2 separate regions of the Homo sapiens genome follow, and region 2 is reported to be linked to region 1. The links are microRNA targets in miRTarBase. Many come from high-throughput screens and were not tested one by one. Region 1 holds a microRNA gene; the other region holds the end of a gene's coding sequence.
Evidence for each region. Region 1 holds the annotated microRNA hsa-miR-6715a-3p (CCAAACCAGUCGUGCCUGUGG, at 1,717-1,737, shown strand). A microRNA usually pairs through its seed, bases 2 to 8, with sites in the 3' UTR of a target mRNA and lowers its output. Matches are read on the target gene's strand: a 7mer-m8 pairs with bases 2 to 8, a 7mer-A1 pairs with bases 2 to 7 and ends in A, and an 8mer does both.

Region 2: miRTarBase lists POLDIP2 as a target of hsa-miR-6715a-3p. Seed matches in the 3' UTR shown: 7mer-A1 at 1,038-1,044.

The regions. Positions count from the first base shown.
Region 1 is chr10:112,297,944-112,303,312 of GRCh38, forward strand. MIR6715A (microRNA 6715a) reads left to right here and starts at 1,669; the gene lies at 1,669-1,747. TECTB (tectorin beta) reads left to right here. Exons shown (of 11, transcript NM_058222.3): 8 at 126-288; 9 at 1,549-1,621; 10 at 4,158-4,190; 11 at 5,320-5,369. The coding sequence ends at 5,369. It overlaps MIR6715B (microRNA 6715b), which reads right to left and starts at 1,745; the gene lies at 1,669-1,745. RefSeq lists an enhancer at 4,428-4,722.
Region 2 is chr17:28,343,489-28,348,857 of GRCh38, reverse strand. It overlaps POLDIP2 (DNA polymerase delta interacting protein 2), which reads left to right. Exons shown (of 11, transcript NM_015584.5): 11 at 627-2,225. The coding sequence ends at 741. It overlaps TNFAIP1 (TNF alpha induced protein 1), which reads right to left. Exons shown (of 7, transcript NM_021137.5): 7 at 1,849-4,494. The coding sequence ends at 4,258. LOC124903963 (a long non-coding RNA gene) reads right to left here and starts at 628. Exons shown (of 2, transcript XR_007065687.1): 1 at 529-628. RefSeq lists enhancers at 3,160-3,663, 4,167-4,670.

The DNA of each region.
Region 1 (5,369 bases):
TCAAAATGCCTGGGAAGGTTAGAGGTCATATAACCACCTCGGGAGCCTTGTGTGTAAATCGCTCAGCAGCTCTTGCTGGAGTTCAAGGAGATGACAGTTCACTCTTCTTTCCCCATCTGCCTCAGCTGCCCCACGGATGAAACCGTCCTCGTGCATGAGAATGGGAGAGATCACAGGGCAACCTTCCAATTCAATGCTTTCCGGTTCCAGAACATCCCCAAACTCTCCAAGGTGTGGTTACACTGTGAGACGTTCATCTGCGACAGTGAGAAACTCTCCTGCCCAGTGGTGAGCTGCCTCTCTCCAGAAGGACAATGTTACCTAAAGGGTGCCAGTATTGGAGGAGCTGGAGTTTGAGTGGGGAGATCATAACCAGGCCAGGGCAGCTGTGTGCTGAGGACATCTGGAGGAAATGGCACTGAGTATAAGGGCAGATGCTCGTGAGGGCAGATGCTCAGGGCCCTATCTGCCCTGCCTCCAACAACCCACATGGTCTGGCATGTGTCGCCTAACCTGCTGGGACCTGCTTTCTCATCCTTAAGCAAAGTGTGTTAAGTAATGATGGCCCTTCCCTCATCAGAGGGCAGTGTAGGTAAATGAAAGTGATAACAGACTTGGAAATACTTGGAAGAAGTGAAAAGGGCAAGGGAAATTCAAGGTCTAGGTGGCAGGGACAGGCCGTGGAAATAACTCAAAAGGTGGGTGTTTTTAGTCTTGACTGAACAGCCCGAGGGTTCACCTCTGTGACTTCAGAGAGATGCTGCAGAAATTCCCGACACTGGATCATGGCTGATTTGACCACGTGAGAGGAAGGCCTGGGCAGGCTGTGCTTTAACAAGCCAGCAGTCATGCCGGTGCTCACTCAAGCCTGAGAACCACCACTTAGACACTTAGACATGCCAAATCTCAAACTGTTCTCCTTTCTGGTCTCTTTCAACTGGAGACCTCGGTGTTTCCAAAGAGGCTGCTATCCACATAGCCTATAGTAACCAACAAAAATAAGGTCATAATCTCTATTGCTGTTGTTTCATTTGGCCAGAAAATGGTTCTTTATGAGCACAAACAGCAAAAGGGAAAGAAACCAGAGAGTGCAGAGCCAGGGAGAGGAGGGGAGAGACACTGTACAGTTGATCAAAGGATAAGTATCAATGCCATATTTTTAAAAAGAAAGAAAAGAAAATGAACCAGAATACAATTGCAAGTGTCCACTTCTCTAATTATTGTGGTGAGAGTGGTAAGTAGAAGCCTTATCAAAGGAAATGGGATCAATCCCTTCCACACTCAATGACCTCTTCCAGAAGGATTCCCTCTGGCTTGAAGAGTTAACAAAGTAAAGCTTTCTCTTTGTATTCAAGTTGGAGAAGGGATGAACAGTGTGTCTTCTGGGTTATTTTTTAAAAAGGTAACTCATCTCTGTTGACTGGGGAATTGTGACTCCACCCCATTTGTGACCTTTTTAAAATATCTTTTCTTTCTCTTTTCTCCCCTTTGCTCACGCATCATCCCACCTTCCCCGCTTCTCTCCTGTCTGCCTCTCTGGGTCTTCAGACCTGCGATAAACGGAAGCGCCTCCTGCGAGACCAGACCGGGGGAGTCCTGGTCGTGGAGCTCTCCCTGCGGAGTAAGCGTCTCTGTTTTCCTCTGTTTTCCAAACGGTTGAGTTCACGCTGGGCTGCGTCCACAGGCACAGCCGGTTTGAGCATTTTTACTGAATTGCCAAACCAGTCGTGCCTGTGGGCACAACCTTCACCTGCTCCTGGAGTCTTCCAGCCAGGGGTGGGGAACAGCTCAAGCCAAACGAAGGAGTTGAGGTTTGTTATCTACTCTGAAAGTTCTAACTGCACCCTAAATTCAAATACCCCCAAAGAATCAGGAAGTGCTGAGCTTCCAAACAGAGCATGCAGTGAACAATAATAATAGAAAATGAGATGTCATGGGGCCGGGCTCGGTGGCTCACGCCTGTAATCCCAGCACTTTGGGAGGCCGAGGTGGGCAGATCACTTGAGGTCAGGAGTTTGAGACCAGCCTGACCAACATGGTGAAACCCCACCTCTACTAAAAATACAAAATTACCTGGGCTTGGTGGGGCACGCCTGTAATCCCAACTACTCGGGAGGCTAAGGCAGGAGAATCACTTGAATCTGGGAGGCAGAGGTTGCAGTGAGCTGAGATCGCGCCATTGTACTCCAGCCTGGGCAACAAGAGCGAAACTCCGTCTCAAAAAAAAAAAAAAGAAAGAAAGAAAAAGAAGAAAGAAAGAGAGACAGACAGACAGACAGAAAGAAATAAAGAAAGAAAGAAAGAAAGAAAGAAAGAAAGAAAGAAAGAAAGAAAGAAAAGAAAGAAAGAAAGAAAGAAAGAAAGAAAGAAAGAAAGAGAAAGAAAAAAGAAAAGAAAAGAAAGAAGGAAGGAAGGAAGGAAGGAAAAATGAGATGTCATGAGAATGTCATGTGCAAGTCAAAAAACCTTTACTGAGTATCCAGCACTGCCTGGCCTGGCAGGGCACTAGGATTTCAGAAATAAATGTGACCCAAGCAGGCCCTGTCCTCAAGGGATTTACTGTCTAGCAAGGAGAGAGATGTTAGACACTAAGGGAAAGAGAAATTACTGTTAAGGAGGGTGACAGTGGGCTGGTGCCATGGTTGCACAGTTGATCATCACTAATGTGAAAATCCAAAATCCGAATGCTCCCAAATCTGAAACTTTTTGAGCACCCACATGATGCTCAAAGGTCATGCTCACAGGAAATGCTCATTGTAGCATTTTAGATTTCAGATTCCAGGTTTTCCAGTTAGGGATGCTCAACTAGTATAATGCAAAGATTCCAAAATCCAAAAAAAAATCTGAAATCTGAAACACTTCTGGTCCCAAGCATTTTGGATAAGGGATATTCATCCTGAATGGAGCAAAGGGATTCAACCTAGTACAGGGCTTGCAGAAGAGCTCTGCTGACAATCTCCAAGTGAGACCTGAAGGATAGTGTGACATGAAGGGTGGGCAAAACCTGTGGGAAGGCGGGAAGCTGTAGCGGCTCTATCTTAGAGGACAGTCACCAAGCTATGGCCAAGGGCCAAGGCCCAGGTGCCACCTGGTTTTGTGGCCTGGGAATTAAGAACAGTTTTCACGTTTTTATGTGGTTCAAAAAAAGAATCAAAACAACAATATTTCGTGACATGTAGAAATTACGTGAAATTCAGGGCCAGGCATGGTGGCTCATGCCTCTAATTCCAGCACTTTGGGAGGCCAAGGCGGGCAGATCACCTGAGGTCAGGAGTTCGAGACCAGCCTGGCCCTGTCCCTACTAGAATACAAAAATTATCCGGGAGTGGTGGTGCACACTTGTAGTCCCAGTACTTGGGAGGCTGAGGCCAGAGAATCACTTGAACCTGGGAGGCAGAGGTTGCAGTGAGCAGAGATCACGCTACTACACTCTAGCCTGGGCAACAAGAGTGAAACTCTGTCTCAAAAAAAAAAAAAAAATTATATGAAATTCAAATTTCAGTGCCTTTAAAGAAAGTTTTATTAGAACACAGCAACACTCGTTCATGTAGATATTGTCTACAGCAGTGCACTGCAACTACAGGTGGATTTGTGGTAGCAGAGATGGGATGGCCTGCAAAGCTGACAAAATGTACTATTTACTTTTTTCTTTTCAGAAAGCTTACCAACCCCTGCTTTGGAGAGAAAGCGTTGTGAGATGAAACTTTGTAAACCCCCAGTATAAACTGTCTGAAAGGCAATGGAGCACCTGATGGTTTAATCAGGGGAGGATTGTGGTCAGGTTTTGTGTTTTATTTATTTATTTATATTTATTTTTTTGAGACCGTGTCGCCCAGGTTGGAGTGCAATGACGTGATCTCAGCTTCAAGCAATTCTCCTGACTCAGCCTCCTGAGTAGCTGGGATTACAGGCACGTGCCACCACATCTGGTTCATTTTTGTATTTTTGGTAGAGACAGGGTTTCATCATGTTGCCCAAGCTGGTTTCGAGCTCCCAACCTCAAGTGACCCGCCCACCTGGGCCTCCCAAAGTGCTGGGATTACAAGTGTGAGCCGCAGCCCCCAGCCAGGTTTTGTGTTGTAGAAACATCACTCTGAGACTTCTCCTTTCCATGATCTTTTCTTAAACTTTCTGCATTCTCTCTTTACTCACTACAGGCAGGGGATTTTCCAGTCTCTATAGCTTCTCAGGTAAGGAAAAGAGACACTTCTGGGATTTCGTGGGGCTATGCTGTTAAAAGGCAGAGAGTGTTTTAAGAGAAGCTTAACTTTGGCCCCGGCAAAACTTTTAAGGATTGAAAATTATACTTTAAAGCACACCTGAGTGGCGCAGAGGGGGCGAGATCAAGAGGTCTCCCTCTGACCAGCCCCTGAACTCTGAAGAGAGGGAGGAACCGAAGGTAAATCGGATGAAGCAGAACTGGACCTCACTTCCCCAAGTCTTAGTAAAGCCATCCCCAGATGGCTTCCCTTGGATTCCAACATTTACAGAACAAGATTTTCAGTGATCTGTTCATTCAACAAATATTTGAATTCTTGTTATGGCTCTGTCTTTTATTAACTGAGTGACCTTGGGCAATGACCTCACCCCTCCTCCATACCCTAGTTTCCTCTGTGAAATTGGGCTAATAATTGCCCCTATCTACATGGCTGTGGTATAGATATTTAATTACAGCTAAGGGCACTGAACAATGCCCAGCAAACAGCAAACACCCAGTCAGGGTCAGCCATGATTATGATGACTGTACTGGGAACTGGTCTTGTGGCTACTGCCGTGAACAAGACAGACAAGGCCCCTTCCCTTGCCAATATGTGTAGAGTATTTGGGGTTCAATGGGGGACGTGATTTAGAGAGCAGCCAGGGAAGCCCCTTAGAGGAAGAAACATTTCAGCTAAGACCCAAGATCTCACCTGAATGATAAGAAGGAAGCAACTACATGAGGAGATGGGGTAAGACAGTTCACTTATTAATAATCTCACAGACAGATTTTGCTCTCATCATTACAGGAGAATCATGTAAATCAACTTTTAAAATTCCAATCCTAGATTCTCATCGTTTTTAAGTTCTACACTGAAAGCCCTAGAGTACCATGCACCATCACTGATTTCTATTTGTCAGAGGTCCACAACCTAGGTTTATCTGTCAGGTTCTTTGTACTGATAAATGTGAGCTACAGAATCCCCAAGGGATGAACAAAATCGACTTTGTCTAAAATGTGTGGAATTTTATGAAGACCCCTGAGTTAACTCTTCTGTTGAGTTGGCTTTACCCTTGTAGAACTGTCTCTGAGTGCCATCTCCCTCCCCTTCTGGTCCACAGATGTTCTCCACCACCTCATCATGATGTTGGGGATTTGTGCCGTGTTATAG
Region 2 (5,369 bases), not on the chromosome of region 1:
GTGATTTGATGCTGCAGAATTGCTTGTATAGTTGGGTTTTTTCCCTTGGTGTTTCACTCCTTTACCTGAAAATGCAGTTGGCTAGCTTATGCAGTATGTATCTAAAGGCCAGAATCTGGACAGCTGTGTTTTCCTTTTTTCTTTTGTGAGATGGAGTTTCACTTATTGCCCAGGCTGGAGTGCAATGGCACAATCTTGGCTCACTGCAACCTCCGCCTCCCAGGTTCAAGCCATTCTCTTGCCTCAGCCTCCCGAGTAGCTGGGATTACAGGCATGCGCCACCACGCCCGGCTAATTTTGTATTTTTAGTGGAGACGGGGTTTCTCCATGTTGGTCAGGCTGGTCTCAAACTCCCCACCTCAGGTGACCTCAGGTGATCTGCTGGCATCAGCCTCCCAAAATGCTGGGATTTCAGGCGTGAGCCACTGCAGCTGTGTTTTTCTTTTCATGGATAACCATGAGGGGCTCTTGGGTCTCTGGACCAGTCATCCTGTCATGAGCTAGAGATAGAAGAGAGCTCAGGCTCACATGTCCTCTGTGGCTGGCAGCTGAGGGCATGGGGCCATCCAGATCCTTAGGAGGCCTCAGCCCTGGCTCCTTCTAAACCAGCTTCTTTCTGACTGTAGGGGCACGTTCCGCTTTGAAAGACCTGATGGCTCCCACTTTGATGTTCGGATTCCTCCCTTCTCCCTGGAAAGCAATAAAGATGAGAAGACACCACCCTCAGGCCTTCACTGGTAGGCCAGCTGAGGCCCCAAGTGCCCAGGCTTGGTCACCGGGAAGAACAACTCTCATCCCACAATTGCTGCAGAACTCTTCTCTCCCCATCATGGGCCACAGTGGGTCTCTTAATTTGATTGTGGGGTTCTTTTTGTGGGGAGGGGTGGTATAACTTTTCTTCAGAAGACCCATGTGGGACACCTCCAAGGCTGGCCTCCTCATAAGCCCTGCCTACACCATGTTCCAGTAAACCTCTCCACCAAGGAACTGTGTTCAGCTGCCACAGGCCTGGAGGAGTTTCCTGGCCTGTCACGTGAGGTTTGATCAGTAAACCAGTGCACGCTTGGCCACCCTTGCCATTTCTGCTCCCAGAGTCTCAGGCTCCCCTTCTGACCCAGTGTGCGCCCTTGACTGCTTTCTTTGCTGCCCTTCCAGGGAGCTGCCCCCCTGGTAGGGCATGTGCCTGTTTCCCTCTCAGCCTGGAGGCTGGCTGGACATCTCCTAGGGTCACTGTGCCTCTCAGCTAGTTGGCGGGGGTGCTGGACTGGACTCTTGTTCACTTTACCTTCTGCCAAATGCAGAGAGGGAGGCCAGTGTCAGGGTCGGAGTGGCCTGGCTCTTAGCACTGACCGACCATTGCCATTTCTGGCCTCGCTAGGCCCAGGAGAGGAGGGAGGCAAGCCAGTCGGGTTTCCTGGAGCAATGGGTGTGCCAGCCCTCAGCATGACTCTGCCAAGCATCCAGACCACAAATGCAGGAATTTGGCTGAGGAGCAGCTTTAGGTATGGATTGATGACTAAGTCAAGCTACTTCCTGAGCTTCTCTCAGATTTCCAAGAGCCAGAGATGAATTGTGCTGCATCTTGCCCCAATTCTTAGGATTTCTTTTCCTCCGCCACTGCAGTGATTGTTAGAGGTAGTTTTCTTGAATTAATATTAAATCACAGTTCCAGCCCTTGTTATTCTTGTCCTTAGTCCTCCAGGGGGAGCTGGGGTTGCAGGGCAACAGTACAGTCGCGCTTACGACCTGGCTAGAACACAAGGTCAGATGATAAACAGAAGCACAGGAACTCAGCCCATGGCCGCAAGCTGGTCAAGGCCTGCTCACTGTAAACATGGCTCTGTACCATTGAGTTTAACACAATTTTATTAGAAATTAGTGTTTGCTTCCATCACTTATGCTGAGCAACCAAATATTACAGTTATGTGATAAAGGAAAAATTCTTTCCTGCCCAGGACCTGCGCCATCCTTTAGGCCGACCTTGGTCACATACCAAATTCAATAAAACCCAATACTGGCCTGTGTTGTTAACAGCAGGCTGCCAGGTTTCTCAGAAACTGACAAGAAAATCTGACCTTCATCCATACTTTGTTTACTTACCCCTGGGCTGCTTGGAGTTGAAAAATGCACACAGCCAAGAGTTGCTTTCTGAATAGGGCTGGAAACTTTCAAAGAAAACCCCCAAACTTTTAAGTCACAAAGTCTGATTAAAGAAGCTAAGATCATGTCAGTGAGTTCAATGTTAGTATTTTCCTTAAGACCAAGGAGAGATTTTCAGTCAGAGAAGATAAATGCCCAGTCCCAGACTACTGTGCTTTCTCGGCAAAAAAGACTGAGACACTGAGGATGTGAATGTCAAAGTAGTAAGCAGGGACTAAAGGGGATGGGGAGGTCAAAAGGCAAGCATCACAACACCTCAGTGGGGAGCTGGGAATTTGAGTGTTAAAGGACCTCAAGAGGGCAGCTGAGAAAATAGGCCAGTGGTCTCAGGCTGACGCATTCCAGTCTCTGTGGGAAAGTCATAAAGCCAAAGCCTGAATTTGGCCAAAGAAGTGGATTTGTCTTTATCTTGTTACCTCAATGAGGGCTGGAAGAACTAGTAGCTGATCACCAAGGTACCTGACCTGAGAGTCTTAGTGCTGTTTATACATTCAAGACTGTGACTAACATAAAATGCCTAATTAGAAAGTCACATTTCCCCTGTCCCGCCGTCATGTCACTTCAGGTCCTTGTGTCTAACCCTGGGTCTGGCATTTGCCCATAGGCTCTGTGGCATCAGCTATCATAAGAGTAGTCAAGAGAGATGAACTTGATAACCTGTGTTCTCTCCAAAGAGCAGAAAGTGGGTACTATACGTGGCTACGTTGCTTTGTTAGGCTGGCAGAACAGTCCCTCCCTGACAGCATTCCTTTGGAAAATAATTCAGATAAGCTGAATTCTGGTTTGGCCAAGCCAAACAAAAAGGAATGAAAACCAAAGCCCTAAAGAGGAACTCACCTCCTGGCTAGTGCTTGGCATCTCCATGGCTGAGTTACCCAACAAGGAGTGAAGGCCTTCAGGGTGCTTCGGTTGCTCCTGTCATCCCGCGCTCAGAGACACCACTGGGCAGAACCGCCATCCCAGCCAGCACCAACCAAGAGCATAGATGGTGTGGGCAGGGAGTAGATGTGTGGCCAAGCATGTGCCACCTCTGTAGGGGCTGCTGGGAGTTTGCTGTCCTCAGCTGATGGGCATGCCAGCCAACACCATGCAGTGCCCACGGGCTCCACGGTCTTCCTGCCGTGGCTCATGTTTCTGGCCCATGTGACAGCTCTTTGGCTTTACCGTATGTGAGGACAGCATGGCTGGAAGCCAAGGGTACTCAAGAGAATCACAAAGAGCAGTCGTGCTAGACCTAGGAGTCAGTGATGTGACTATGATGTGGGGGTAAAATGTCCTTTCTCACAGGCACCCTGTGAGGACTGCCGGTCCCAGCTTAGCCATCCTTCCCTCCTCGGTGCACTCTGAGCTGCTGGCCAGGCTGCAAAGCCAGAGCTGCTCTGTCGGATGTTTTTTTTTTATTGCTTCCTCTTTATCCCCTCCCTCAGATTGATTCTGCAGGGAAGTGGGGATTAGGGTAGAAAGACATGGGTCAAGGAGATTATCAACCTCCTGAATAACAGTACAAAGTGCTTTAAAGAAACAGATCCCACAGGCATGGAGAAGGGCCAAGGGTTCTGTCATATGTAGGGTCTTGGCACCCTGGAGGGCAAAAGAAATGCTCAGTTTCCTCATTACTAGATTTAGAATTATTCATTTCCTAGATTATTTTTTAAAAACCAAACTTATCAAGCCTGTGCTTAAACACCTTAGGAAAAAAGACGTCCCACTTTCTGCACCAGGGCCTCTACAGCACCAGAACTGCCTTTCCCCCAGCTGAGGCCTAAGGGGCAGTAGCCTTCTGCACAGGGCCTAGGGGAAGGTTCTCAGCAGGAGGTGGGTCAGTCCATATGCCCCAGGGAGCAGAAGCAGCTCCGTCGGGCAGGAAGGGTGATGGTGAGCAGATAGGACAGGACGCAGTCTCCAGAAGTGCTCAGGGGCAAGGCAGGGGAATGTGGTCCCTCCTCTGCCCAGACCCTCTGACCTCTGAGCAGGGCCTGTCATGCCTCTGGGTGCTAGAGCAGAGACCCAGGCAGCAGCAGCATGGGGTGGCCAATGGGGCGGGTTCCACAGGATGGGAGATAGGGCCTCCCGTGCCCTGACTCCCTGAGGGTCTGGTCAGTCGCGATGGGTAGACTGGTGGCCGAGCTGCCGGTCATCGTAAGTGCTGTAGCGCTTGACGTGGATGCGGCGGACACGGTCCCGCAGTTCAAAGGTCTCCTCATCTTCACTGGGGGAAGCCTGGCTGCGGCTACGGCTTGTGGCCTCCAACAAGGAGTTGTCGGGGACGCGGGGAGTCTCATAGAGTAGGACGTTGAGTGTCTCCTCATAGATTCGGGCCTCTGGGAATTCCACCTGGGGTTAGGGAGGAAGAAGGTGGAGCAAGGTTTCATCTTCAAGAGGAAGCCATGCGTCAGAGCGGCTGGCCCTGAGGCTCCATAAGGCCTCCGCTACCTCTCATAAAACAGGTGGCGGTCCGTCTCCAGGGAAAGCCAGCCTCCCTCCGAAGGCGGGGTGAGGGGATGTACTCTACAGACATGAGGACAGGGAAGACCAACATCCTCCACACCCCTGCCCCAGCCTGAGACCAAGGGACTAGTGGGCATAGAGGGTGGGCCAGAGCTAGGTCCCAACACAGCTCTACCACTTGCTAGCTGTGGAGCCTTGGGCTGAACCCTTCTGGGCTGCAGCTCCCATATGTACAAAAGGTTGGTTCAGCTCAACCCCTGAGAGTTGCTGTCAACATTACGGGAAAGATGTGATTGCTTAGCAGAAGATTGGCACACAGCAAACCACCAAGCAGAGGCATACACAGAGCAGCTGCTATGCTGAGTGGTTATGCTGCCTTTCTCTGCCTGCCTGACGCAGTGTGTCACCGGCATGACCTGCCTGGAGGAAGGAGAAAGGGAAGGCAGTCAAGCACCTGAATTCTAGCCAGACCTGCTCTGTTGGACTGAGCTTCTGTTCACTCATCTGTCACATGGGGAGAGTGGCTCTAGCCCTGCGTGTCTCACAGGCATGTTGTGAGGGGTCACACGAGTTCATGAAAGACAACACACTTAAGAAGATGCCAGGTGCGCTGCCACTTCCGTCGCAGCATCACCAGCCACTGGAGACCTGCCCCTGAACCCTTTCACCACCGATAGGGTCAGGAACCACCTGTCGCCCTCCCTCCCACCCCTACACCAAAAACCGCAGAAGGAAGCAGGGCCACCTGTAAGTTGGCCTTC